Linked DNA regions of Homo sapiens: all the other regions are linked to region 4. Evidence: fine-mapped expression QTL. A gene starts in region 4. Each other region holds a variant in brackets. All regions are shown on one strand. Distances are between the middles of the regions.

Region 1 (4,417 bases), 220 kb before region 4:
GGTGGGAAGGTAGTAGTGAGGATGACTAGAGGTCACTCCCGTTGTCTTCTTGGTTTTGGTGGAGTTCCACTGGCTTCTGTGCAACCTGTTTTATCAGCAAGGTCTTCATGACCTGTATCTTGTGCCGACCTCCTGTCTCATCCTGTGACTTAGAATGCCTTAAGTGTCTGGGAATGCAGCCCAGTAGGTCTCAGCCTCATTTTACCCAGCCTTTATTCAAGATGGAGTTGCTCTTGTTCAAATGTCTCTGACAGATGTAATAGGTAACGCTCAGAAACTGGCATCAGAGGCTATGCAACCTGAACAGAATTGGCTGACATATATCTCCGGGTATAAAGAAAGTCTCAGCTTTCCCCTGAGATGTAATGATGAATGTCCCTAAAGCTTCCTTCACCCTTCCATGCTAAACTCGCTCCACTGTTCCATCATCTGCTTTGAAGCCACAAGGACAGCCAGTTAGGACTTTGTCATCATCACTTTTAACTTTTGTTTAACTTTTAACAAAGATTGGCCTTTTTAAAGGCTCAATTATATTTAAAAAAAAAACAAAACAAAACTTCCTGCCACTTACGCAGTCCATTCATTTTAAACAAAGTTGATAATGCAAGTCAATGGGAAAAGAATAGTCTTTTTCAACACATGGAATTGGAAAAACTGGATACCTATATGGATAAAAATGAACTTTGATCCCTTACTCCATACTCTGCACAAGCATTAAATTAAGATCAACTGAGATTTGACCTGAACATAAAATCTAAAATTTTGAAGCTTTTACAATAAAGCAAAGGTAGACAAAGACTCCTTCTACAAATACCTGGCACTAAACATTAAAAAATCATAAATTGTGCTTCATCAAAAATACATCTGCTCTTCAAGATAGATGAAAAGGCAATTCACTGACTTTGAAACCAAGTATTTGTGTTCAGAATATGTAAAGGAATTCTAAAACTCAACATAAAAAGACAAAAATAAAACAAAAACACACGCAAAAAAAAAAAAAATAGAAAATGAGCAAATTATTTGGACAAAAATCTCCCAAAAAAGGAAATGCAAATAGCTAGCAATCACAGGAAAAGTTGCTCGATATTATTAGTTATCAAGGAAATAAAAAGTGAAACCATGAGATACTCCTACCCATTAGAATGGCTACAGTTAAAACGACTGACAATACTAAGTTTTGATGAGGATGTGGAGCAATTGGAATGCTCATGTATTGAGGTGAGAATATAAAATGGTGCAACTACTTTTAATAACTACCCTATGGCTCAACAATTCCATTTATAGATATATACCAAAAAGTTATGAAAACATATATTCATCCACACAAAGACCTGTACACAGATATTCATTGTAGCATTATTCATGATAACTTCAAATGGAGCAGAACCCAAATGCTTACCAAAGGATAAATGGATAAACTTACTGTTACATATTCATATAACGACATACTACTAACAGATAAAAAAAGGAATAACTATTGTTACCTGCAATGGAAACATATATAAATCTCAGAAATAGTATGTTGTTAAATAGGCCAGATACCAAATAGAATATGTTGCATGATTCCATTTATATAAAGTTCTAGTAGAGGCAACATGAAAGCCATGGTAATAAGAACAGCAGTTGCCTGAAGTTTTGGGGTTTGGTGATATGAGGAAATTTTCTGGAGTGATGGAAATATTCTTTATCTTTATTAGGCTGATGTTTTCACAGGTGAATATATTTGTGTAAACTCATCAGAATATATAAAGGATCCTACAACTCAAAATAGAATTTTAAAAAACCACAAAAAGTTATTGTGATGGTTAATATTGAGTGTCAACTTGATTGGATTGAAATGATATAAGTATTGCTCCTGGGTGTGTCTATGAGGGTACTGTCAAAGAAGATTAATATTTGAGTCAGTAGACTGGGAGAGGCAGCCCCTTCCTCAATTTGGGTGTGCACCA[T/C]CTAATCAGCTGCCAGCGTGGTAGGATAAAAGCAGGCAGAGGAACGGGAAAGGACTAGACTGGTTTTGTCTTCTGGCCTACATCTTTCTCCCAGCTGGATGCTTCCTGCCCTCGAAAATCAGACTCCAAGTTCTTCAACTCTGGGACTCGGACCTTTGAACACAGACTGAAGGCTGCACTGTCGGCTTCCTTACTTTTGAGGCTTTGGGACTTGGACTGACTTCCTGGATCCTCAGCTTGCAGATGGCCTATTGTGGGACCTCACCTTGTGATCACGTGAGTCAGTGCTCCTTAACAAACTCCCCTTTGTATATACATCTATCCTACTACTTCTGTCACTCTAGAGAACCTTGACGAATACGGTTATGCATTTTTATTAATGTAAATTATGCCTTAATTAACAATAAATACCTTCTCAACCTCCAAAAAGAGACTTTCTGTCTGAAACTTGAGAATAAGTCTAAAGTTTTCATTTAATAATGAATTTGTAAAAGACAGGAAAATTGATTTTGGCATTAATTTGTTCAACAAATATCTGTTGAGCATGTCCTATGTGGCAGAGGCTGAGTGTGGGGTGTGGAGTGGGTGAATGTAAGGAACATATAGTTCCTGGCTCCCTAGAGCTTATTATGGTCTAGGGGTTGGAGAGAATTGGTACATTGGGATTTTAAAGGGGGTGCCAAAAGTGGTGATGACAAAGTTCAGGGAAGAACAACTGGAGTGGAGGGAGGGCATCAACATGGATGCTGAACCAAGCCAATGTACTGCTAAGAGTGAGGTGGAAAGTATCATGCGAACCCCAGAGCTTCAATTGTCAATACATACTGGGGTGTGACCAGCAGATTGATAGAAGACAGCAAAGAGAGATGGGTAAATGCCAATAGAGCAGAATAGCATGACTTGTCAAGAGACAGGACTTTTCAAGGTGAAAGGAAGGGAGATGGTCCTGAAGCAGCAGTCATGTCTGTGACCCAACCAAGCCCTAAGCGATGACAGATAGAAACAGAGTCAGGGTCCTCAGAGGACAACTTAGTTTTAATTAAGGACAGAAGTTGAGAAGAATATTTTAAGAAACATTTGAGGGCATATTACAGTTTGCTGGCTATGGGTTAGGGTAGGGTAGAAGAGAGAGATTTGGAATAAAGGGTATGGATGGGACAAGACAAAGCAGGGCACCAGCCCTACCTTGGACCTTTCCTTAACTTGAGAAAGTCATGTCCATGTTGATTCAGCCAATCTGACTCAGGTATTATGTAACTTGAAATTGAACCATCCCAACTGATATAAGTGGTGATACTGAGTAACACAAATGTGCTTTCTGGATTCACACATGCACTTTTTTTTACATGAAAAGTTCAAACTTCTATGTGGAGATTTTTTTCAACAGTATCCTCAAGAAGTATTCATCATGCAACTCTTTCTAGGAAAGGTATTTTAAAAAGAAGAAAAATGTCATTTCTGGCCCCAGAATGTCAAGACATACATCTCTGAGAGATTTAGTTCTAATTATTATTGTAGAGTCTTGTGGGTGTTTCTTATAATTTTAATTTTTACAAAAAACAAATCTGTCCATCCATGCATCTATGTATGTATGTATATATGTATGTATCTATCTTCATCATCATCATAATTATCCATCTATGATCTATCTATTGTGTATCTATCTAATAATCTACCTATGCAGAACTGCAAAATTCACAGGACTGGCCCATACTGCCCTCTGCTCCCCACTTTGTCTAAACTTCAAAATGAAGTTTCTGGACACAGGGCTATGAAATGCAAAATGAAACAACTCATGTCCAAAGCTCTGACACTCTGCTGCTCATGAAAACCTGCAATATCCAACTGAGTTTTTCATTTTTAACATCAGCAGGTCTAGTTCTCTATCTTCATAGAGAGTTATTTTTAATTTTATTAGGGGATAAATTCTTTTTTAATAAAGAAATTATTAGGTATCAAAATACCACAATCTCTTTATGGATCCAACTAGATTATGTGTATGGGCAAAGTATTTTCAACTTAAGAATAACATTCCTGTTCCTTGAATACTATTTTGAAAGTTTGGATTAAGGGATATTAACTTCCTTAAGACAAAACAGACTCACAGTTGAAAACTACTCACCTTGTATATAGAAGTTGCTTAATTAATATCAATGATTTTTATTGAATTGGAACAAAATAGACTATAACTTTTTATAAGATACATATGGGTTTGTTACTAAATATTATTAAAATGAATGTAATGCAATAATATTCTTATTTTGAGGTAATACATATATAGTCTGCAAAAATTAGGTTTCCTGGTGTCATTAACCACTTATGCAATTATTTTTCTGAAATGAATACACATGCTGTACGTGCAGTTTTGCCTGATATAAGTTTTAAAACAACGTATATTGGAATCTTGGAACTAAAAATGAGAAAATCAGTGTCCCCTTGATGTCAATTTCAGTTTCAACTACACTTGC
Region 2 (4,417 bases), 48 kb before region 4:
AATTGTAGCCCATCACTTTCAGGGGCAGATTGTGGGCAAGTAGAAAAAACTCCTCCTCCTCCTCCTCTGTGGCATTGAATGGCATGGCTTCAGTAGTGACTCTGGCAGTGGTGGGTGGGTTCCAGAAGGTTAAAAGTGAGGCTAGGATGGGGAGGGAGCATCAGTCAATATCAAAACCTATGTATTGGGATGGAAAGTTGGGGCCCTTTGTCCTTAGAGGTTCTCTTCACCCATGAGCCTTGGAGAGAGAGAGAATGTGTGTGTGTGTGTGTGTGTGTGTGTGTGTGTGTGTGTGTGTGTGTGTGTGTGTGTCCTGCTGGGTCAAGGTCAGCAGCATGACCCCCATTCCTTCAACACCTCTGAACTTGGCATTTCCCTGTGTGGAATCCTCTTCCCCAGGGGTCTGCATGGTTCCCTTTCCACTGACCTCATATCCTGCTCACATCAGGGCATCCTTGAAAGAGCCCTTTCTTGACACCTCCACTAGAGATTCTGGGTCTTCCCTTTCTCACTTTTCCCTGCTCAGTTTTCTCCAGGGCTCTTGTCAACACCTGACCTCACATTCTAGATATCCTTGCGTGTCTCGCTCCCCTCCCCATAACAGCATCAGGTTCATGAGGGCAGGGACTTGTATGATCTTGGTTGTACCGCAGTGCCTGGGACATGCTGTGGACTCTTGTGAATGAGTTTGTGAGCATTCCCAGAGCCCTCCAAGGCCTGTGATTTATTTCCCAATTTCTGAAGTTGGTGGCTGATGACAATGCCTTATACCCTCACTATGTTTTTATATGAAGTGTTATCTGATATAGTTATTATGATCATTTTTCAAAATGTAGTGGCCAGTGATGATTAACCGGGAATAGAGAACACTTGAGATTTGTTTGCTTCTTACCATAAATTTCAGTTCAATGTGATTTTCCTGTTTTAATCCTGTCCCTTCTGGTGTCCTCTTTTCTGTTAAGGCAGCAGTAGAAGCTCTAAGTCCTCTTTCCCCAGGAGCCCCATTTTCCCCAGGAGACCCAAGCCAGTCCCTGTGCCTTCTCATTTCCTCTTCAAGGAAGTTCTCTCCTCACCTGTGAACATGAGCTTCTGCCAGAGGATGTGCCATCTGGAGAAAGGGACTGATAGGGGGGCACCATGGTCTGTGCTGCCTGCTTGTCCTCCTCTGTGGAGATGAGCCTGGGATCCGGAAAGTTTCTGAGCAGGGCTGTCAGCTGGGCTGTCCTTCCACCTTCTATGCTGAGCCTCTTCCTGGGGCAGGAGCACTTCTCAGGCTCATGGGTGGGGTCTGTACCCAGGACACCTCTCTGTGCCCTCCCCTCTCAGTCCTGCTTCCTTGTCCCTCCTTTCTGTTTCTCTTCTGTCTGTGTTTCAGGCCCCTGGGAATTGCTGAGTCCTCTGCCTCCTTCAGCAGTGATTCTCTCACCCAACCTCTACACACACTATGTGCAGACACACACACACACACACACACACACACACACACACACAGACATCCTTTAGGTTTGGTAAGCACAGCCCTGGGCCCTCAGTGTCCTCCCATTTCCATTGCTCCAGGTCAGGGTGCACAGTCGCTCCCCCTGCCCTCTCCCATTCCCATCTGGCTTTTCTCTTCAAAGCAGGAGGCTGGGCTGCACCATGACCCTGTCACAGTGATGCACCCTCACCTTGCTTTGGGTGGGCTGAGTGCTGGCTGGTGAGAAGGACCCTCCCTCTCTTTCATTATGTTGAACTTTGCTACAGCTTCCATGGTTAGACATTCGATGACCCGGTTGTCCAAGAGGGTATTTTCCTTCGTGGAGGTGTGCAGGATCAATCTCTTATGCCTCCTGGTAGGAAAGGCCTGTGCTGATTGGTCAGTGGGGCCTATGGGCCCAGTGTTCACCAGGGACAGGTCTCAGCCACTCTCTTGGTCCCTGGGTTCTGGTGGCTGAGCTGGGGTGAGGCCCATCCATTTTCTTCCTGACCATCTT[T/C]GGTGTCCTCTGTCCTTGGCCCAGCTGACTGTCCTGTGGTCACCCCACCTTCCCCACGGCTGGTGCAAAAGGGAGTGGGGTGATGCCCAGGGTCCCCACAGAACACAGCTCTTCAAGACCCAGAGAGAGAGACTGGGAAAGAACAGGGGCTCAGAGCTGGAGAGATTTCTGCAGACTTACTCTGCAGCCAGGATGGGCTTAGCCCTTCTTGCTATACATCCCTTGGGGTTCCTCTTGAGGGATTGAGGCAGATCAAGCTCCTCTGTGTAGAAGAAGAACAGGCAGTGGCTGGAGAGCCTGCGTGAAGGGACTTTGCTCACACCTGAGAGGGTGTGTGGGGGTGGGCCATGTTCTGAGAACAAAAGGAGCTCATACCCCCCACTTCACCTTCCCCATGCACAAAGGACAGCCCTGTCTTCCCTCCCAGCTTCACGAGAGACAGCAGGGGGCAGATTGTGGGTGAGTAGAAAAACCTCCAGCAGGTGGCCACATCATGGATGGTGCCTGTGCGTGACCTTCAAACACCCTCTGCACCTCCTAGCGTGCAATGGGCAGGTCATAGGGTGCCTGGCTGATTCCTAGGAATACTGTGGGCACTCAGGCAGCTGCTGTTCTGTGTCAGCACTGGGATCAGCCTGGGATAACCTAGAGAACCGTACAGAGGGAGTGGGGTGGGAATGTAGGGAGCAGTCACAGAAAAAGTTGATAAGGATGGAAAGAGGTCACAAGGGTAAAGTGCCTAATATGGCATCATGTGGACCATCGCTGCCCTTGCAGATGCCCTTTTGGCTGGGTCAGCAGCCCCTGGGGAGTCTTGTGGCTGGGATTCTGCCATCCTCTGGTGAACATGGGGGAAATTTGGATGACAGCAGCCCCAGGCAAGGCTGCATGTTTTATTCCATGTGAATCTGCACATTTCACAGCAGATTATTCACCTATGTCACAGATCCATCACATTCCAGCCCCATGAGTCTCAGTCTCTGTGACTGTAAGTTCACTATCCTCCCTCTATCACAATCAGATGTCCCAAACACAGATTTCTGTCACCTGTGAGTTTGTGTTTGTGTGCAGTGGGCTGCACTGTGTATGCCCTGGGGACAGTGATGTCTGGGTGGGGCTGAGCACTGGGCAGAGGTTTGGAAGCAGAAGAGGGAGGTGCAGGGCAGGAAGATCAATGACAGAGGAGCAGAGAGGGAGCAGGGACAAGTCATCTTTGTTTCTCACTCCCAGGGGACCAAGAATGCAGGACCCTGACCTTAGGGCTCAACACCACACACTGTTGGTGTCCGTGGATGTCACCAGTGCTCGTAATTTCATGTTGCCTTGGCATTCATTTATTAAGGTGTAAGTTTACCTGCTTTATATCAGAGGCAGGGCTTGGTCACCGTGACAGTTCCCAATACTGTACCTGGCCAAATGGCTGCAGTTGGTGGCCAGAGATAAAATCTTAGAGGCATCTCTCCTGCTTAGTGTGCTGGGCTCCCCCTCTACCCAGCTGCTTCCTTTAAACTGACGGTTGTGAAATTTGCCCTGAAATTTAAAGTGACCACCTCTCAGTCACAGCGTGGTCACCTGGCCCCAGTGTTTGCTTGCTTTAAACTCACCCATTAAAGCTTTCTGCTGGAAACCTCAGCTAACGCCTTGGACCCACTAAAGCCATTGGCCTACAGGTCCCTACTTTCCTCTCTGCCTGGACTCCTTGACCTCTGTGTCTATTATCTCTAGGTGTGCCATGTGCTCCTCAGAGTCTGTAAATAGCAAAAAAAAAATTTGTACTTTCACATTGTGGTTGTATCACTATAGCCTCACCTGCCATCTGGTGCCTGACATTGAGGCTGCCCCATGGGACCCATGCTGGTTGAGCCCCTGCTGGAGCTCTTTTCTTGGGGTCTCTGGTGCTGCTGGGGACAGGCACTGTCAGGTGATTTGATGGAGAAATGGAAGAGTTTTATTCAAAACAGTGTGTCAGATGATGTTTTCATGGGCTTCAGCTGCTGTAACAAACACCTTAGTCTGGGTGACTTAAAATTTAGAAATCTATTTCTCATAGTTCTGGAGCCTGGGAAGTCCAAGTTCAAGGTTCCAGCTGATTCAGTCCTGGTGAGGGCTTCCTTGCAGATTCCTGCTCTCTTGCTGTATCTGCACATGGTGCAGGCTTGAAGGTGGGTGGAGAGACAGAAAGAGGTAGAGACCCTTCTCCCATGTTTTCTTCTATTTATAAGGTCATTAACTCTATCATGAAGCCTCCACTTTTATGACTTAGTCTTACTGTAATTATCTCCCAAAAATGCCACCTCCAAATTTCATCACATTAAGGATGAGGGCTTTAACAATTTTGAGGGGGCACATTCTGTCTGGAGCAGGAAAGGTGGGAGCTCCTTCCCCTCCTGTTCATGAGGCCTGACCTTCCCTGGTGAGATAACTTCACATTCAGTCTCATTCTA
Region 3 (4,417 bases), 28 kb before region 4:
TCTTGGGCTTTACACCTGGTAACTAGTTAGAATTGCTTACTTCCTGTTTTTTCTCTCCTGAAAATAATGCTGTATTTGTTTGTTCTCACATTGCTACTGAGAAATACCTGAGACTGGGTAATTTATAAAGAAAAGAGGTTGAATTGGCTCATGGTTTGGCATGACTCTCACATTTGCTCAGCTTTTGAGGAGGCCTCGGGAAACTTACAATCATTGTGGAAGGCCAAGGCAGAACAAGGCATCTCACAGGTGAGAGCAGGAGGAAGACAGCAAGGGTTACACACTCTTAACCAGATCACCTGAGAACTCACTGTCACTAGGAAAGCACCAAGAGGAATGGTGTTAAACCATGAGAAACCATCCCCATAATCCAATCACCTTCAACCAGGCTCCACCTACAACTTTGGAGATTACAACTTGACATGAGATTTGAGTGGGAATATAAATCCAAAACATATCATTCTTTCCCTGGTTTCTCTCAAATCTCATGTCTTTCTTTTCATACGTGTCCGTGTGAAGAGACCACCAAACAGGCTTTGTGTGAGCAACATGGTTGTTTATTTCACCTGGGTGCAGGTGGGCTGAGTCCGAAAAGAGAGTCAGCAAAGGGAGATAGGGATGGGGCCATTTTATAGGATTTGGGAAGGTAATGGAAAATTACAGTCAAAGGGGGTTGTTCTCTGGTGGGCAGGGGCGGGGGTCACAAGGTGCTCAGTGGGGGAGCTTCTGAGCCAGGAGAAGGAAATTCACAGGGTTAATCACTCAGTTAAGGTGGGGCAGGAACAAATCACAATGGTGGAATGTCATCAGTTAAGGCGGGGCAGGGCCTTTTCACTTCTTTTGTGATTCTTCAGTAACTTCAGGCCATCTGGGCGTATACGTGCAAGTCACAGGGGATGCGATGGCTTGGCTTGGGCTCAGAGGACTGACATTCCTGCCTTCTTATATTAATAAGAAAAATAAAACAAAATAGTGTTGAAGTGTTGGGGTGGCGAAAATTTTTGGGGGGTGGTATGGAGAGAGAATGGGCGATGTTTCTCAGGGCTGCTTCAAGCGGGATTAGGGGCGGGTGGGAACCTAGAGTGGGAGAGATTAAGCTGAAAGGAGATCTTGTGGTAAGGGGTGATATTGTGGGGTTGTTAGAAGAAACATTTGTCATATAGTATGATTGGTGATGGCCTGGATACAGTTTTGTGTGAATTGAAAAACTAAATGGAATAAGAAGGAGAAAAACAGGTATAAAAGGTCTAAGAATTGGGAGGACCTAGGACATCTGATTAGAGAGTGCCTAAGGAGATTCAGCATAGTCCTGCCAGCAAAGATTATTTATTTACTTCAAGAGTTAAGAGTGGCAGTTTGGGGATAGCACGAGGAGATATCAGCTGTGATGGCTTGGAGAAACAGTGTAAACTGGCAGTGTGAACAAGAGCAGGGCATGTGTGAGTAGTTGAGAATGGAGAATAGGAATATGACTAGACAGAAAATAGTAGGGATGACAAGTTTTCTTGGGGGCACAGTCTAAGTTGGTCCAGTGTCTGGAATGAGACTGGGGCCTAATAAAAAGGAGCATCTATACAGGAGCTTAAATGGGCTGTACCTTGTAGCATTCTGAGGACAGGCCTGAATTCTGAGAAGTGAAAGTGGTAAAAGTATTGTCCAGTCCTTTTTAAGTTGGTGGCTGAGCTTGGTGAGGTGTGTTTTTAAAAGACCTTTAGTCCGTTCTACTTTTCTTGAAGACGGAGGACCGTAAGGGATATAAAGGTTTCACTGAATACTAAGAGCCTGAAAAACTAATTGGCTGATTTGACTAATAAAGGCTGGTCTGCTATCAGACTGTATAGAGGTGGGAAGGCTAAACTGAGGAATTATGTCTGACAGAAGGGAAGAAATGACTGTGGTGGCCTTCTCAGACCCTGTAGGAAAGGCCTTTACTTATTCAGTGAAAGTGTCTATTTAGACTAAGAGGTATTTTAGTTTCCTGACTCGGGCATGTTGAGTAAAGCTAATTTGCCAGTCCTGGGTGGGGGCAAATTCTCGAGCTTGATGTGTAGGGAAGGGAGGGGGCCTGAATAATCCCTGAGGAGTAGTAGAATAGCAGATGGAACACTGAGAAGTTATTTTCTTGAGGATAGATTTCCACGATGGAAAGGAAATGAGAGGTTCTGAGAGGCAGGCTAGTGGCTTGTACTATAGCATAGCCTGCATTTGCTGGTATGTGGCGATTAGGCCTGGTGGAACTGCCATCAATAAATCAAGCGTGATCAGGGTGAGGAATAGGAAAGAAGGAAATACAGGGAAATGGGGTGAATAGCAGGTGGATCAGAGAGATACAGTCATGGGGGTCAGGTGTGGTATCAGGAATAATGTGGGAGGCCAGATTGAAGTCCGGGCCAGGAACAGTGGTAATTGTGGGACTTAACAAAGAGTGAGTACAGCTGAAGGAGCCGGGGAGCAGAAAGTGTATGCGTCAGGTATGAGGAAGAAAATAGATTTTGGAAGTTGAGAAATGTAGAGAGTGAGTTGAGCATAGTTTGTGATTTTCAGGGCCTCTAAAAGTATTAAAGCAGCGGCAGCCGCTGCACACAGACATGAGGGCTAGGCTAAAACAGTAAGGTCAAGTTGTTTGGACAGAAAGGCTACAGGGTGCGGTCCTGGCTCTTGTGTAAGAATTCTGACCACACTAACCATGCCTAGGAAGGAAAGGAGTTGTTGTTTTGTAAGGGATTGAGGTTTGGGAGATTAATCAGACA[T/C]GATCAGCAGGGAAAGCACGTGTGTTTTTGTGAGAATTATACCGAGATAGGTAACAGATGAGGATGAAATTTGGGCTTGACTGAGGTAATGGGGGCTGTCTGTGAAGCCTTGCGGCAGGACAGCCCAGGTAATTTGCTGAGCCTGATGGGTGTCAGGGTCAGTCTAAGTGAAAGCAAAGAGAGGCGGGGACGAGGGGTGCAGGGGAACAGTGAAAAAAGCATCTTTACGATCAAGCACGGAATAGTGAGTTGTGGAGGAAGGTATTGAGGACAAAAGAGTGTTCGGGTTGGGCACCACAAGGGGGATAGGCAAAACAATTTGGTTGATAAGGCACAGATCCTGAACTAACTTGTAAGTCTTGTCTGGTTTTAGGACAGGTAAAATGGGGGAATTGTAAGGAGAGTTTATAGGCTTTAAAAGGCCATGCTGTAGCAGGCGAGTGATAACAGGCTTTAATCCTTTTAAAGCGTGCTGTGGGATGGGATATTGGCGTTGAGTGGGGTAAGGGTGATTAGGTTTTAATGAGATGGTAAGGGGTGCATGATCAGTCGCCAAGGAGGGAGTAGAGGTGTCTTATACTTGTGGGTTAAGGTGGGGGGATACAAGAGGAGGACGCAAAGGAGGCTTTGGATTGGGAAGAAGGGCGGCAATGAGATATAGCTGTAGTCCAGGAATAGTCAGGGAAGCAGATAATTTACTTAAAGTGCCTCAGCCTAATAAGGGAACTGGGCAGGTGGGGATAACTAAAAAGGAGTGCTTAAAAGAGTAGTGTCTAAGTTGGCGCCAGAGTTGGGGAGTTTTAAGAGGTTTAGAAGCCTGGCTGTCAATACCCACAACAGTTATGGAGGCAAGGGAAACAGGCCCTTGAAAAGAAGGTAATGTGGAGTGGGTAGCCTCCGTATTGATTAAGAAGGGGATGGACTTACCCTCCACCGTGAGAGTTACCTAAAGCTCGGCGTCCGTGATGGTCTACGGGGCTTCTGAGGTGATCAGGCAGCGTCAGTCTTCAGCCGGTAAGCCAAGAAGGAGTCAGTCAGAGAGCCTTGGGCCCAGAGTTCCTTGGGCTCTGGGAGTGGCTGCCAGGTGAGTTGAACAGTCCGATTTTCAGTGGGGTCCCACACAGATGGGACGCGGCTTAGGAGGAATCCCAGGCTGCGGGCATTCCTTGGCCCAGTGGCCAGATTTCCGGCACGTGTAGCAAGCGCCTGGGGGAGGAGGTTCTGGAGGAACGCCTGGTTGCTATGGTTCAGGCGTTTGGAAGTTCTTGTGTGCTGGAGATGTGGCTGGGGTTTGTCTCACAGTGGAGGCAAGGAATTGCAACTTTTTTCTGTTATTGCACACCTTGAAGGTGAGGTTAATTAAGTCCTGTTGTGGGGTTTGAGGGCCAGATTCCAATTTCTGGAGTTTTATTTAATGTCGGGAGCAGATTGGGTAATAAAATGTATATTGAGAATAAGATGGCCTTTTGACCTTTTAGGGTCTAGGGCTATAAAGCGTCTCAGGGTTGCTGTCAAACGAGCCATGAACTGGGCTGGATTTTTATACTTGATGAAAAAGAGCCTAAACGCTATCTGATTTGGGATAAAGAAAAAGGAGCATTAACCTTGACTATGCCTTTAGCTCCAGCCACCTTTTTAAGAGTAAATTGCTAGGCAGGTGGGGAAGG
Region 4 (4,417 bases):
CACTTAGTGGTGAGAGTTACAATGTCTACTCCTTGTTTTTAAAATTTAAGAATATTTTAAAAGCATATGTTGTGTGTGTATAAACAGATACAATAAAATGTGAAGAGTGGGTGAATCCAGTGAAGGGGATACTTGTGTTCACTGTACTATCCTTGCAACTTTTCTGCCGGTTTGAAATTTTTCCGTCTTTTTTTTTGAGATGGAGTCTTACTCTGTTGCCCAGGCTGGAGTGCAGTGGTGCGATCTCGGCTCACTGCAACCTCTGCCTCTTGGGTTCAAGCGATTCTCCTGTCTCAGTCTCCGGAGTAGCTGGGACTACAGGTGGCTGCCACTACACCGGGCTAATTTTTGTATTTTTTTTTTAAGTAGAGATGGGGTTTCACCGTGTTGTCCAGGTTGGTTTCAATCTCCTGACTTCAATAGATCCACCCGCCTTGGCTTCCCAAAGTGCTAGGATGACTGGTATGAGTCACCGCTCCCAGCCTGAAATTTTTCAAAATGAAAACACCGCAGGTCAGGAGTTTGAGACCAGCCTGAACAACATAGTGAAACCCTGTCTCTATTGAAAATACAAAAATTAACCAGACATGGTGGTGTGCACCTGTAGTCCCAGTTACTCGGGAGGCTGAGGTGGGAGAGTTGCTTGAGTCCAGGAGATGGAGGCTGTAGTGACCTGCAGTGAGCTACAACTGCACCACTGTACTCCAGCATAGGTGAGAGCAAGACTCTGTTTCTAAAAAAAAAAAAAAATTACTGGGCATGTACTGTATGCCATGTAGGTGGTGGAGACATAGCAGGAGATCAGACAAACACTTCCCTGTCTGTGTGGCAAATATTAAACTTGCAATAAACTTGCAAAGACAAATAAAGATAAAATTTATAGAGATGTCAAAAATAAACATATAATTGCAAGTCACATTCATTTCTCTTTCTCTGCTATTCCTGCTCTCGCCTTCCCTCTTCTGCTTCTCCTCTCTCCGTCACAGACACCCACAACGTCCCTCTGCAGTCACTGACAGATACCCCAGGTTCCTTCCTGTCTTCCTCCCCGCCACCCCAGTGTGTTACAGCTGATTTGTACAGCCCTGGACAAGCCCATGGTTAAATAGCTAGGGATTTCATCAGCCTGGTTGGCAAACTGTAGGTAGCTTAAAATCAGACATGCTATGAGTATTTACACCAGAGAAATAGGCCAACACTACGAGGCAGGATTTGTGGGTATTGTTTTTCAGAAAACTTGGTTTTTCAGCACAACACTGCTCTCCCATCGGCTTCCAGCAAATAAATGTTGCATTTTTCAGATATATCCTAATTCTTTCATAGATATTCAGTCTCTACTCCACCTCTGGCCAAGCCTTTCCTGGTGGTAGGAAACTGGGGACTTGAGTCCTATGTTGTACTGTGAGGGTAGAGAATAGAAGAGAAAGCATGAGAGAAAAGCATGAAAAGAAGAATCAAAAGAAAGCAATATAAGAAGGAAAGAGAAAGAACAGAGAAGTGGGAAGACAGTGGAGGGTAGAAACTAGGACCGGAAGACATGGGGACAAGCTGATGCCCACTGCACAACGTCCTCACAGGTAGTTGGGCCATTTCCCCATCTGGGGTACAGAGGTGGCCAGGGAGCCCATGAGAAATGAGGAAACTGCCTTCCCAAACTACTGGAGAAAGAGGGTGGGGGTGGTGATCCACATAGCTGGGCTCAGGAGGAAAGAGGGCTGGGAGTCTGGACCGGGGGAACCTCGGGTCAAGATGCCACAGTTTCTAACTATGGAGGGCCTGGGGGCCTGGACTCCTGGGTCTGAGGGAGGAGGGCCTGGGGGTCTGGACTCCTGGGTCGGAGGGAGGAGGGCCTCGGGGCCTGGACTCCTGGGTCTGAGAGAGGGAGGCCTGGGGCCTGGACTCCTGGGTCTGAGGGAGGAGGGGCTGGGGGGCTGGACTCCTGGGTCTGAGGGAGGAGGCACTGGGGGCCTGGACTCCTGGGTCTGAGGGAGGAGGGACTGGGGGCCTGGACTCCTGGGTCTGAGGGCGGAGGGGCTGGGGGTCTGGACTCCTGGGTCTGAAGGAGGAGGGGCTGAGGGGCTGGGGGTCCTGGACCCTCCATCTGAGGGAGGAGGGGCTGGATGCCTGGACCCGAAGGTCTGAGGAAGAAAGGGGGTCCCTGATAGGCCACTGCGGCCATTGAGACTTGGGGTGGGGCCCAAGCCTCCATTTTGCAAGGCCCTCCCCTCCCCACCCTTTTCTGGGCTGGCTGCTTAAGGGCTGGTATAAAGGACTTGTTTCCTGCTGAAAAAGCAGAAAGAGATTACCAGCCACAGACGGGTCATGAGCGCGGTATTACTGCTGGCCCTCCTGGGGTTCATCCTCCCACTGCCAGGTGAGTGATGAGCCCAGCCTGGAGGAGATTCCCTGGAGGCCGGGCAAGGGAACCCTGCTGAGATGGATTTGCTCTTGCCACTCCAGGAGTGCAGGCGCTGCTCTGCCAGTTTGGGACAGTTCAGCATGTGTGGAAGGTGTCCGACCTGCCCCGGCAATGGACCCCTAAGAACACCAGCTGCGACAGCGGCTTGGGGTGCCAGGACACGTTGATGCTCATTGAGAGCGGTGAGAAGGCCCTGGCGTGCAGAGACCCCGCCCTGTCCCCTCAGTCCCTTGATCCCTGTGCAGGGACCCGGGAGCCACCCCTCCGGGGGATCGACTCCTAGGGTCCCGGTGATCCCCTTTCCAGCCTCTCAGCCTACGCCGTGTAGCAGCGTCTCCCTCCAGGACCCTGGAGGCCTGACCTCCATCCTCGCTTGCCTCCCTCTTTCGGTCCAGGACCCCAAGTGAGCCTGGTGCTCTCCAAGGGCTGCACGGAGGCCAAGGACCAGGAGCCCCGCGTCACTGAGCACCGGATGGGCCCCGGCCTCTCCCTGATCTCCTACACCTTCGTGTGCCGCCAGGAGGACTTCTGCAACAACCTCGTTAACTCCCTCCCGCTTTGGGCCCCACAGCCCCCAGCAGGTGCCTGCGGGAGGGTCGGGAGGAGAGGGAGGGGCTGCTAGAAGGGGATCCGCTGAGCACAGAGGGGCTGTTACGGAGTCCCTCCCACCCTCGCTCGCTATCCCGACCCTCGCTGGCTCCATCCCTCCCCTGACTGCTCCCTGACCATCGCCCCGCCCCGCTCCCTTTCCATCCCTCCCCACTCACTCCCGATCCCTCCCACCGACCTGCCACCCGGGAATCCCCGCACCCCTCCTCTTCTAAGAGCAAACAGGACGGATTTCTGATATGAAATCACCATTAACTGGGTTATCCTGCATTCTTTTTTTATTCTGTTGCGTTTGGTTCAAGAAGTTCTCCTGCAGGGTTTTTGCTATTTCCTCTTCCTAAGGGAGACTGAACTGTAACTTTCCACTTTCCTTGTCTGGTGTTATAAAGAGTCTAGGGAGATATTTTGCGCTTCTTTTATTGGAACAGCTTGTGAACACAGAAGTCTCCTGTTCTTGGAGGTTTAGTAGCGCTTGCAGGTGAAGGCACTGGCTCGTTCCAGGGCACCCCCTCATTCCCTTGACCAATGAGTCTGCTTCTGTGTCTCCCCTCGGAAGGCCAGACTTTGTTGAAAGGTTCAGACTTGACCATGTCTGAGTCTACATTTGGCCTCAGCAGGCCCCTCCTCCACCCTGCCCACCCCCCACCCCCACTTGCCACCCAAGACACCCCCCCTTTTCTTTTCTTTTTTTTTTTTTTTTTTTTTTTTTCTGAGAAAGCGTCTCGCTGTGTCGACCAGGCTGGAGTGCAGTGGCGCAATCTCGGCTCACTGCAACCTCCGACTCCCGGGTTCAAGCGATTCTCCTGCGTCAGCCTCCCACGTAGCAGGGACTAGAGGAGCCTGCCACCACGCCCGGCTAATTTTTGTATTTTTAGTAGAGACAGGGTTTCACTATGTTGCCCAGGCTGGTCTTGAACTCCTGACCTCGTGATCCACCTGCCTCAGCCTCCCAAAGTGCTGGGATTACAGGTGTGAGTCACCACACCCAGCCAAGACCACTTTCTGTACCCAGCCCTGGGTGCCTCTACCCAGACCTCCTGTTCATTCTCCCTTCCTCTTTTATGGATTACACTTCTTTATTTTCCCACATCCAGATCCCATGATGGGAGCTGCAGAAGGCCCCTTTGGGAAGGCTGAGCAGGTTGACTCTTGAGGCCAGCAAAAGTGGGGTGCAGAGAAGGTATCTGATCAAATCCAGTGCCCTCTCAGTGCCCCCTCACTCTGTCTGTCACTTTCCTAGACCCAGGATCCTTGAGGTGCCCAGTCTGCTTGTCTATGGAAGGCTGTCTGGAGGGGACAACAGAAGAGATCTGCCCCAAGGGGACCACACACTGTTATGATGGCCTCCTCAGGCTCAGGGGAGGTAAGCCTGGGACATCGGGGTCCCTG
Region 5 (4,417 bases), 68 kb before region 4:
AATCTGGAAAACAAAGGGAAGAGAATCTGTAGATATGAATTGGGAGTGTTCAGGAGAAAAATTTGGGATTTACTTTTGTGCATGGGACACAGGCTGAGAATAAAAATGTTTTCCTGGCTCTTTCTTGGAAAGCCAGATAGGCTTCACCTGAAAGCATATTGCCAATGCTCCAGCGATCCACTTACCAGGGACTGTGATTTTCTTGGTTGCGAAGTTTTTGCCATTAGTGACTGGGTTATGGACATAACACAGATAGTCCCCACTATTCTCTGTAGTGACTTGGGGGATAAAGAGCTCTTGTCCTGTTTGCTGGTTATTCCCATTCAGCAGCCAAGAATACTCTGCTGATGGGTTAGAGCCCATGAGGCAGGAGAGGTTGAGGTTTGACCCTGCATAGTAATAGGTGTCTGAAGAATAAGTTGTGGGTTCATCTGGGCCATCTGGAGCAAAGAGAATAAAGCCACAGGTAATGTTATCAGAGGGAATGGGAAGCTCCTGGTCTGTGAAAGGGACACAATGTTCCTTTTTGCCAAGTCACAACCCTGAAGTCCCAGCCAAATTTCTTCTGTGTTCACTGAACTGGAGGAGTCTAAGACATTCACGTGTTCTCCCATCGCAAGCTATGGAACCAGAGTCCCCTAAGACCGGAGAAGCCCCTCCCTTCCTGGGCCTACCCAGGTTTGCCTGGGACAGAAAGTCATGGCCAGCTTGGGGGTCCAGGGGTAAGTGTCTTCATACTTGGACCTGAGAGGGACTGAGAGGCCTGGCCTCGTGTTATGTGGATTTGGGCTGGCAGCCTTGTCCATGAAGGAAAAGAGGATACTCACAGAGAACATCCAGGTGACTGGGTCACTGTGGCTGGTACTCACTACATTCTTCCTTTGACATTCATAGAGTCCTGTGTCACTCCTTGTGACACTGAGTAGAGCAAGGACCCTGTTATCATTGGACATCTTTAGCCTGGGACTGAGTGTGAGTCTATGACTATTTACCCACCACATGTAGATTGTGCCATGAGTCTCAGGTTCACAGGTTAAGACCACAGCCTCCTCATCCTCCGCGGGGTTGCTGGTGACATAGGGCTTGGGCAGATTCACTGTGCAGATAACAGAGAAGATTCCCCTGTGTGGCACCATTGATTTCTCCACGAGCATTTTCCAATCAGAGTTGACATCTCCCACCTCTCAGCCAATCCAAGTCCTTAAAAGCCCACAGCAGTTCTGTGTGTCAAAAGACAGATGGATGCATGATGATCTGAGGGCTCAGAGACCATGGGGCCACCTGCTCTGTGTGGGAGATGCACAGACTTCTGAACTGTGAATCAAGCAGCAATACTGGTGAACTGTGAATTGAGCAGGGTCATATAATTAGAGTTTGATTAACTTTGTTTAAATTGGGCAGAGTCTAAGTGAGGCAGCAGTGGCTCATGCATCTCCCCACCCGAAGGACCCCACCTTATGACACTGTTGTTATTATGAGTACACAGGTGTGCATGAAACAGGCAGTAAATCAAACAGCACCCACCTGGCCAGCTCCACCTGGTCCTAGGAACCACCAGTATTCCCATTATGTGTATGTTACAGCCTTTGTAGGCTACAAAATATAAAATACAACTTCAGAATATAAAATATGCTATTGTCAATACCAAATATTGAATATGAAGCTGAATATGTTGTTCCACTTTTTCTCACTCTTGTTAAACTTTGCTGTTTCAGTTTTGGAAGTTCCTATTGACACACACTTAAGCTAGAGATTCTTTCCTCAGCTGTGGGCAGCCTACCAGTAAGCCCATGCAGGGCATTCTTTATTTCGCTTAAAGTGTTTTTAATCTCTAGCATTTCTTTTGCTTCTTTCTTAGAATAGCCATCTCTCTGTTTAAATCACCCATCTATTCCTGAAAGGTGTCTCCTTTTTCCATCATAATCCTTAACCAGAGTTGTTTTAAATTTTCAGTCTGATAATTTCAACATCCCTACCACATCTGTGTCTGGTTCTGATCCTTGCTCTGTTTTTCAAACTGCATTAT[T/TA]TTTTTTTTTTTTTTTGCCATAGTCTGTCTTGTATTTTTTTGAAAACCACACATGATGTACTGGGTAAAAGGGACTTGAGTGAGCAGGCATTCAGTGACATGGTGGTGAGTGAGGGGAGGGAAGGGTTCTGTGGTTCTGGATGAGATCTGTGTCCTGGGCTGTGAATGTCACAAGTGCCTCTCAGGTTTTTCTTTCCATTAGGTGGGATATGATGACTTGAGGAGGCTGGAGTTGGATATTTCCCCTCCCCCTGGCCAGTTAAGCTCCCATCAAACCCCAGCTAATTAGGCTGCAGTAAAATAGTTCCTCTTAAATGTAGGTCTTACCAAGAAGAATATAATTCACTGACAACTTTCCAAGTGTTTTTTTCCCTTCTCTCCTACAAGAAGGATGCAGGGATTCTTTTTGGATATTGACTGTGAGAACCTGGTAGAGCTCCAGGAGCTAAGAGTCATAAAACTGTCCCCCTACTCCCAAGGCTAATTCATCCACTGGTGTGTTTATCTCTGCGCTGTGTCCACACTGAGCCTCCAGAATTTCCTCAATTAGAGTTGAGGTTTTCTGACCCCAGCACTGGTTCCCGCTGAGGTTTCTGTGCCTGTGTTTCTGCTCAGGTACGGTGCGCTGCTCTGTATTTGCCTGTGGGTCTCTTCAATATGTGGGCCAGTTAGCACTGAGACCTTGCTTCTCTGACAAATCTAAATGAGTTGTTGTTTTTTCAGTTTGTTCAGCTTTTTACTTGTTGTTAGAACTGAGTGAAAATTTTTAAGCTACTTACATGCCTGGCGGAAATTCGAAGTCTCTAGGGCATGACTGGAGGATATGAGCCCCACAGCAGGTTGAGGATGGAGTCATGAGTGAAATGGGTGAAATGAGCCCATGGGCTTTGGAAACTGCAGGTCTGTCCTTCAGCGTCTGACCACCTGGTGAGTCTATGTAGAAAGTGAAACCACCTTTGCAAAGCATATGATGGTGAGAGGAAGCTAGCTTGGCTGACCCCATCTCACCTCTAGCCTCAGGCTGGGTGTCCTCTCTGATTCTTGGGCATAGGCCAGGGTAAGCATGGAAGGAATTTATAGTTTAACTTTGACGCAAGGATGATAATAGTCCCTCCCTAAAATTAGCTCCCTCCTTGTCGGGGACTACCGTGGTAAATCTAAGAAAAGACCATGAATTATGCAGGAGCCCAAATTCTGCTAAAATGCAGGCATAGTTTCTATAATCCCTTACTGCTCAGGAGTCATGTGTCCAGAGGTCACAAGATTTGTGACTTTCCTAGTTGCTCCTATAGATAGCAACACTATTGTAGAATCTGAGATTTGTCTTTGGAGATGTTTCTCAGATTTTTGCATTCCGGCAACCAGCTGACCTCATCTAGACTCATGACCAATGGCTCAACCAGTCATGTGGCCCCCCACTCAGAGGCAGATTCAACAAATACAGACCATTTCCCCTACCGGCATCATTTCATCTTTAGCCAGTCAACAGTACTTATTCCTTAGAACTTTGCCCCTCAAAGTTTTTGAAAAACTCTAACCTCTGAGCCACTGGGGAAGCTGATTTGAGTCATAATAAACTTCTATCCTCCTGTTTGGCAGCCTTGGGCTAAGCAAAACCATTTTTTACTACACATCACCTTCACAATAAATTGGCTTTGCCTGCGCAGAGGGCAAGAACCTGTCAGGTGATTATAAGAATGGATGGAGGAGTCACTGATCTCTTTCTGGTGGCCTGTTTCATGAGTCAGCCTCTCAGAGGGAAAGAGCCCTGGACTGCGACACAGTGGAAGCTCATTCTCTTGGTGACCCAGGGACATTGCCTTATTATGGATCCTGGCAGGGGTGGCTGCTTTGGCTGATTTTGGTGCATTTTACATTTCCCAGAAGGCAGGACAGGCCTAAGTGTGAGCAGAAAGGAAACGGGGCAGTCAGCTTTGTTAGAGAGGGTGTCTGGGGAAGTCCTCAGGGTGGAGGAAGCTGTGCAGGACAGGGCTCATCAGGTAGAATGAAAGAGGGATGCACTTTTTTCACTGAACACCTTTCAGACATCTCACCAACTCTGGCCTCACTGGGCTGTGCCTTTCCTCCTGAGCCCTGAGCCCTGATTCCTGGCAGGGAGGGAGAAAGAGAGGAAGGGTGAAGCTGGGATGTGTGCTGTCCAGGTTTCTTCCATCTCTAGAATCTTGACAGCGAGGGACCCTAATGTGTTACCACAGAGGAGACCATGGGAAAAAGCTGTTTCTCAGGGGTGCCTGGCTTATGAAGTGAGGGAAATTCAGACCGAGTTGGACTCCTGAACTACAGGGAACCTGTTCCATGTCAGCAACCAGCTCCTCTAGCTCAGTGTTTCTCTCTGTGGCTAATTCTTTTGTATGGTTTCTGAGCCTATGC

The links. PIP is the estimated chance that this variant, and not a neighbour inherited with it, causes the effect.
Region 1: its variant is the best candidate, but not a certain one, in a credible set for the expression of CD177 in whole blood (INTERVAL, PIP 0.68).
Region 2: its variant is the best candidate, but not a certain one, in a credible set for the expression of CD177 in whole blood (GTEx, PIP 0.86).
Region 3: its variant is the best candidate, but not a certain one, in a credible set for the expression of CD177 in subcutaneous fat (FUSION, PIP 0.81).
Region 5: its variant is the best candidate, but not a certain one, in a credible set for the expression of CD177 in whole blood (INTERVAL, PIP 0.78).

The regions. Positions count from the first base shown.
Region 1 is chr19:43,135,474-43,139,890 of GRCh38, forward strand. No RefSeq gene overlaps it. Among named protein-coding and RNA genes, the nearest start is that of PSG11-AS1, 17 kb to the right of the region's middle. The variant T/C (reference allele first, on the strand shown) is at 1,950.
Region 2 is chr19:43,303,396-43,307,812 of GRCh38, forward strand. It overlaps the pseudogene CEACAMP4. Among named protein-coding and RNA genes, the nearest start is that of LINC03078, 26 kb to the right of the region's middle. The variant T/C (reference allele first, on the strand shown) is at 1,974.
Region 3 is chr19:43,323,014-43,327,430 of GRCh38, forward strand. No RefSeq gene overlaps it. Among named protein-coding and RNA genes, the nearest start is that of LINC03078, 6.3 kb to the right of the region's middle. The variant T/C (reference allele first, on the strand shown) is at 2,751.
Region 4 is chr19:43,351,393-43,355,809 of GRCh38, forward strand. It overlaps CD177 (CD177 molecule), which reads left to right and starts at 2,294. Exons shown (of 9, transcript NM_020406.4): 1 at 2,294-2,374; 2 at 2,461-2,601; 3 at 2,815-3,000; 4 at 4,269-4,391. The coding sequence starts at 2,323.
Region 5 is chr19:43,283,251-43,287,667 of GRCh38, forward strand. It overlaps the pseudogene CEACAMP11. Among named protein-coding and RNA genes, the nearest start is that of PSG9, 16 kb to the left of the region's middle. The variant T/TA (reference allele first, on the strand shown) is at 2,027.